2 separate regions of the Homo sapiens genome follow, and region 1 is linked to region 2. The links come from fine-mapping of genetic effects on gene expression. A gene starts in region 2. The other region holds a variant in brackets. All regions are shown on one strand. Distances are from middle to middle. Region 1 has its middle 14 kb from the start of KRT1. Region 2 holds the start of NPFF (neuropeptide FF-amide peptide precursor).

Region 1 (2,789 bases), 840 kb before region 2:
CTGACTTAGCTTTCCCTGTCCAGTTCTCCTAGGACCTACTGTTGTGACATCCACTTTCGCCCCATCAGAAATTCTCCACTGGTGAAGCATGTGATAGACTATATTCCCACCCCACCCAGGGACCCCACTTAGGAGAACTGCTACCCCCTGAGGTCTTTCCTAAGAGATTGGGCCCTAAATCCTCCCAGTCCCTATCCGCTCACCTTGCTAGTTACTTGTCTCGCTAGGTAGGTATGGTCACCAAGGGCCCTCCCTGGCCCAGGATTGGTCAGACATAGCTACTCCTGATGGCCAGTTGAACTCAGCCTGCCAGAGACAGCTCCATTATAACCCCTTTACCGAAGGAAATATGGTCTAGGCAGGTGAAAAGACACCCAGTAGAGCCAATAAATGCACATTTCAGACCTTTGAATGTGCTTTTCTAGGACAACATTCCTCACCCAAGGGGCCCAAAATGAAGGACCCCATGTGTTGTTTTGTTGCGGGATTCTTAACCCATTTTGTCGGAAATAATCAGAAATAAATAAGGCATGCCCCCCACCCACTCACCCATTTAGGACAACACAAATCATTGGAACAGACATACTTGCAGCTACCTATATTATGTTATTAATGCCAGGACACAGGCAGGCAAAATGGGATGGGAACACAAAAGAATGTTTTTTTCCCCACGGGAGAGAGAAGGAGTCACAGAAGTTCTGGCATTTAGCTGGACCTTGAAGAAAATGTTAATGATCAATATTAAAATACATGCTAATAATTATACTTACTTTCTGGTTACAGCTGCATTCATTCATCTTTACGTAGGAAGAGGGTCTAGAATGGAAAGGGAAACTTAATAGTTCTTAGTTGAGGTGAATTTTCTGTTCATTTTAATTTTCTTTCATATGGTTACTATGCTGTTTGTGCAATTTTTCAGTAAGGATAAAAAATACATCCTAGTAATTTCATTTGGACTATTTCCCACCCCTCCCCTTTAAACATCCTTATGAGGTGGCTGAAGACATAGCTCCTTCAAAGCTGGAAAATTTCTAAAGCTATAAGGAACTGCATGGCAACCGGGCATGATGGCACATGCCTGTAGTCCCAGCTACTCGGGAGGCTGAGGCAGGTGGGCTGCATGTGCAGCCTCAGGCTGGCCTCTCCTTCATGACAGACCCCCGCCTGTCAACACCCCCACAGGGTGTACACAACAGGAAATTGACCAGGATTGAACCAAATCCACCATAAACAACCCCTGCTCAAGAACTGAACTCCAATATTTTTTAACTGAACAAACATAAATGTTCACCAAAACACCTATAAGATCAGCTCAAACCAGAACCAAACCTTTATGCTTTTTAAAATAACTGCTCAAAATATTCTGGGAGTTGAGTCTGGGAATCTTGGGAAGGAAAAAAAAAAGAGAAAGAAGAATCTGGAGGACTTGTAAGGAGAATGGGGAAAGAAGGCAGCCTTGGGATCTCCAGGTTGGAAGTGGTCCAATTTCCGAACCAGGGCTGGACTCTCTGCTCAAGTGCCCTTGCCTTGGGAAAGACCCTTCTACTTGTTTCTCCAAGTCAGCTTAACTCCTCTCACAAGACAGCTCCTGCACTGTGGGGCAACTGGGCCGGGGTGAAAGTTCTTCTTTAGAGTGACTCCTGTAACTTCCAAGCAAGAAGAGGCTGACTCTCTTCCCTACAAACTAT[G/A]GTGTGGTTTATCTTCATTGAAAGTGACCATTGGCCAGGTACAGTAGTTCACGCCTGTAATCCTAGCACTTTGGGAGGCCAAGGCTGGTAGATCACTTGAGCTCAGAAGTTCATGATAAGCCCATCTCTAAAAAACATGGAAAACCCCATCTCTAAAAAAGAACAAAAATTGGCTAGGTGTGGTGGCGTGTGCCTGTAGTCTCAGCTACTTGGAATGCTGAGGTGGGAGGATCGCCTGCACCCAGGGAGGTTGAGGCTGCAGTGAGCTGAGATTGTGCCACCACACTCCAGCCTGAGCAACAGAACAGCACCCTGTCTCAAAAAAAAAAAAAAAGAGGAAAGGAAGAAAGAAAGAAAGAAAGAAAGAAAGAAAGAAAGAAAGAAAGAAAGAAAGAAAGAAAGAAAAAGGAGGGAAGGGGAGGAGAGGGAAGGGGAGGGGAGGGGAGGGAAGGGAAGGGAAGGGAAGGGAAGGGAAGGGAAGGGGGGAGGAAGGAAGGAAGGAAAGAAAGAAGGAAGGAAGGAAGGAAAGAAAGAAGGAAGGAAGGAAGGAAAGAAAGAAAGAAATCATCACACCCCACCCTCAGCCGTCTTCCTTGATCTTTTTTCCAGTCCTTTCTCTGCTCTAGTTTTTGCCTCTGTGCTCACATTAGCTTTTCAATGGGTCACTTTAACTTCCAAGATGCTCAGGACTGAGCTCAACACCCAGAGAAAAGAGCTTTCTCCCACGATCAAAGATTCTCTGTATCAGGAAGGATTTAGCTGCTTCCTTATGTCTTTGCAACTTGTGAACAGAATCAAGAGAAGTCTTTTTGTTTCTATTTTTCCCAGTAAGCTTTCTGAAATATCCAAAGGATGTAATCTTCATCCTCACCCTCCCTGGGAGCCGCTGCGTTGTGGTGACCATCACAGGTACCATCATTGCATGTAGAGAAGCCTTTGTACCAGCAGAGGACACTCCATACTGCCTAGAGAGAATACGCAGGGCCTATTGACAGATTGGAAATCGGGCGTGGGCCCCTGGGAGGGGTGGGGATAAACCCGCATGAACTTGGGAAGGTCGCAAGTTGACTAAGACTGCGCCATATTTCTGATAATGGATTG
Region 2 (2,789 bases):
TGCCATCTCTACCTCTGACACAGACTGCCTGCCTTGAAGCTGAGAAGGCACAGGGCAAGGAGCCAAGGACCACAGAGCCTCAGCCAGCCCAGGATCCGTCCTCATTTTATTGGTGATGATGAATGGGAATGAAATCAGGGGGCTGTCTACTAGAGCCTGGAATAAATATGCTGCTTTGTGGATTTTTAAGCCCTTCTCTTCTGTTTCCTTGAGCAGTGTGGATAGCAGAGGAGGTCACCACATTACTTTTGTGTGCCTTCCCTGAGCTCCTGTTCCAGCCATTCTCCTGTTTTCCTTTCTGGTGGGAGGAGGCTGGGCACAGTGGCCTCGTGGAATGTTGTCGGCTGCCTTGCTGGAGGGCTGGGTTTGGTGGAGGGGAAGGGCAGTGGTTCTTGCCCTTGGGCTTCCACCCAGCCCTGTAAAGTCTCACACAGACACACATGGATTCAGAAGCCAGACAATTTTATTTGGGGGGCAAACATTGACACTTTTGGGTGTGGACCTTGCATGCAGACATATCAAGGGATGACATGTCACTTCTTCCCAAAGCGTTGAGGGGCAGCCAGGCTCCAGAACTGGGAATTCAGCCCCTCTCCAGCCCGGGGACTCAGCCATTCATTCCTCCAGGATCCCTGGGTATTTCTGCCAAACCTTAGGAAAGATTTGTCCTCAGGTCCCCGCAGTCTCCCTTCTCTAGCCCCCTTCCTTCTCCTCTTCCTCTGCCTCCTGCCCTTTCCACCCCCAGCCCCTGCCATGCTTGTGTCCCTTTCAGACTCACCTCTGGGGCTGAAACAGGAAGGCTTGGCTCCGGCCAGGTCTCTCCATTGCCTGGAGCAGGTAGTGCAACAGTGACCCAGAGGTCTGGGCATCCTGTGGTGGGAGGGGTTCGCTGTCTTCCTCCTGTGCCAAGGGGGTATCAGGGAAGGAAGATGGGCAAATACCCTGGACACGTAAGTCACAAGGGGAAGGGACTGGCTTCCAGGGGCAAGTGGTAGGAGGCTGCGGAACCATTTCCTCAGATGTGAGGACCTAATGACAACCTTGGCAGCCAGAGAAAGTATCAGAACCTAGAGCACAAGTCTCAACCGAAGTAGAGGCAATGGTGATATGGGGATGGGACACACACTCACCGCGGAGAGCTGGTCTTCCTGCTGGCCTCCTGGCCCTTCAGCACAGCCCCCGTCTATTAACAGCAGCAGCACCAGCAGTGCAGCAGCCTGCCTAGAATCCATGCTGCCACCTACCCTCCTACAGCCACCCCAACCTCTTATACCTGCTGTTCCCCCACCCCCAGCCTCACAGTAGCCTTAGGGGAATCTAGAGCAGGCAAATGGAAATGCAGGGCTCATTAGGAGCCACCTGGGATCTCCTCCCATGGCGCCCCCAGGACTTCATGCTCTCAGCCTCCTGCCCCCGGCCCCTAAGCCTGGAGTTACAGACTTTATTAGATGCATAAATCCTGTCTCCAGAGCTCAAGAAGCATCATTAGTTGCAGACGCTTTGTCAGAGCCAGGCCCTGGGGAGCCTTAGACGAACCCCTAATCCCTCAACAGGTTGGAGAGCTTGTTTATCACTTCCCCTCTTTCCTAACCTGTAGACTAAAGCACAAGAAACTCATGTCAGGAGGGGTTAAGTAGGATGTCCTGGAGTGGAAGAGGAGTGGGAAGAGCCAGGGTCAGAGTCTGTGAGGATGACCAGGCCTGGTCCTCTGTGCCTGGGGCTGGCAGTCAGGGCAACACAGCCCATCCTCTGCTTGTGTGCCTCTTGGAGGCTACTCAGATTTGCCTGTGGATAGAAAAAATATATTCAACTTCATGATGATGGAGAGAATTTAACTTTTTTTCTTTTTGAGATGGAGTTTCGCTCTTTTTGCCCAGGCTGGAGTGCAGTGGCGCGATCTCGGCTCACTGCAACCTCTGGCTCCTGGGTTCAAGTGATTCTCCTGCCTCAGCCTCCCAAGTAGCTGGGACTACAGGCGTCAACCACCATGCCCAGCCTGTATCTTTTTTTTTTTTAATTAAAAACCATTTTTTTTTTGGCCGGGTGCAGTGCCTCACACCTGTAACCCCAGCACTTTGGGAGACCAAGGCGGGTGGATCACCTGAGGGCAGGAGTTCGAGACCAGCCTGGCCAACATGGTGAAACCCTGTCTACTAAAAATACGAAAATTAGCTGGGCGTGGTGGTAGGCACCTGTAATCCCAGCTACTCAGGAGGCTGAGGCAGGAGAATCGCTTGAATCGGGGAGGCAGAGGTTGCAGTGAGCTGAGATGGCACCACTACACTCCAGCCTTGGCAAAAAGAGAAACTCTGTCTCAAAAAAAAAAAATTATTAAGATATAGAGGGAGGCTACAGGATTTTGGAGCCCACTGAATGAGTGTGGCTTCCAATCTTTGCAGACAGACCCCCATCCTCACTAGAGAGCACTGCTTCCGACCTGCCTCATCGCCCTTCCTATAGTCACTCTCCACAGCTGAAGCACTGCTGCCACCCTGTGGTCACAGCTCCTCATTGCCAGCTCCGGCCATTTCCTTTTCCTAGAATAGACCTCTGCAGAGGAAGTGAGGAGGGTGAGGCTGAGTGGAGGTGCTAGGGTCCAGTCTCCAGGGAGTCCCAGAAGGACAGGAGCAGGCTACTGTGGGGCTGGACTATCATTCTGACCCCGACTCTGGTCTCCACAGCCTCTGCCTGGCCCTGGCTCTCATATAGAGTAGCCTAGAATCCTGTCTTAAGAAAAATCAGAATCACTAATCCTCAGGGAGAGGCCTTCAAAGCCATATGGTGCAGGT

Evidence for each region. PIP is the estimated chance that this variant, and not a neighbour inherited with it, causes the effect. A credible set is the group of variants that fine-mapping cannot tell apart.
Region 1: its variant is the best candidate, but not a certain one, in a credible set for the expression of NPFF in sigmoid colon (GTEx, PIP 0.62).

Annotation. Positions count from the first base shown.
Region 1 is chr12:52,665,050-52,667,838 of GRCh38, forward strand. No RefSeq gene overlaps it. Among named protein-coding and RNA genes, the nearest start is that of KRT1, 14 kb to the right of the region's middle. The variant G/A (reference allele first, on the strand shown) is at 1,689.
Region 2 is chr12:53,506,243-53,509,031 of GRCh38, forward strand. NPFF (neuropeptide FF-amide peptide precursor) reads right to left here and starts at 1,242. Exons shown (of 3, transcript NM_003717.4): 1 at 1,131-1,242; 2 at 779-900; 3 at 446-651. The coding sequence starts at 1,232. The coding sequence ends at 534. ATF7-NPFF (ATF7-NPFF readthrough) reads right to left here. Exons shown (of 15, transcript NR_159377.1): 13 at 1,592-1,785; 14 at 779-900; 15 at 446-651. TARBP2 (TARBP2 subunit of RISC loading complex) reads left to right here. Exons shown (of 9, transcript NM_134323.2): 9 at 1-189. It also overlaps a transcript of ATF7 not described here. RefSeq lists an enhancer at 2,363-2,657.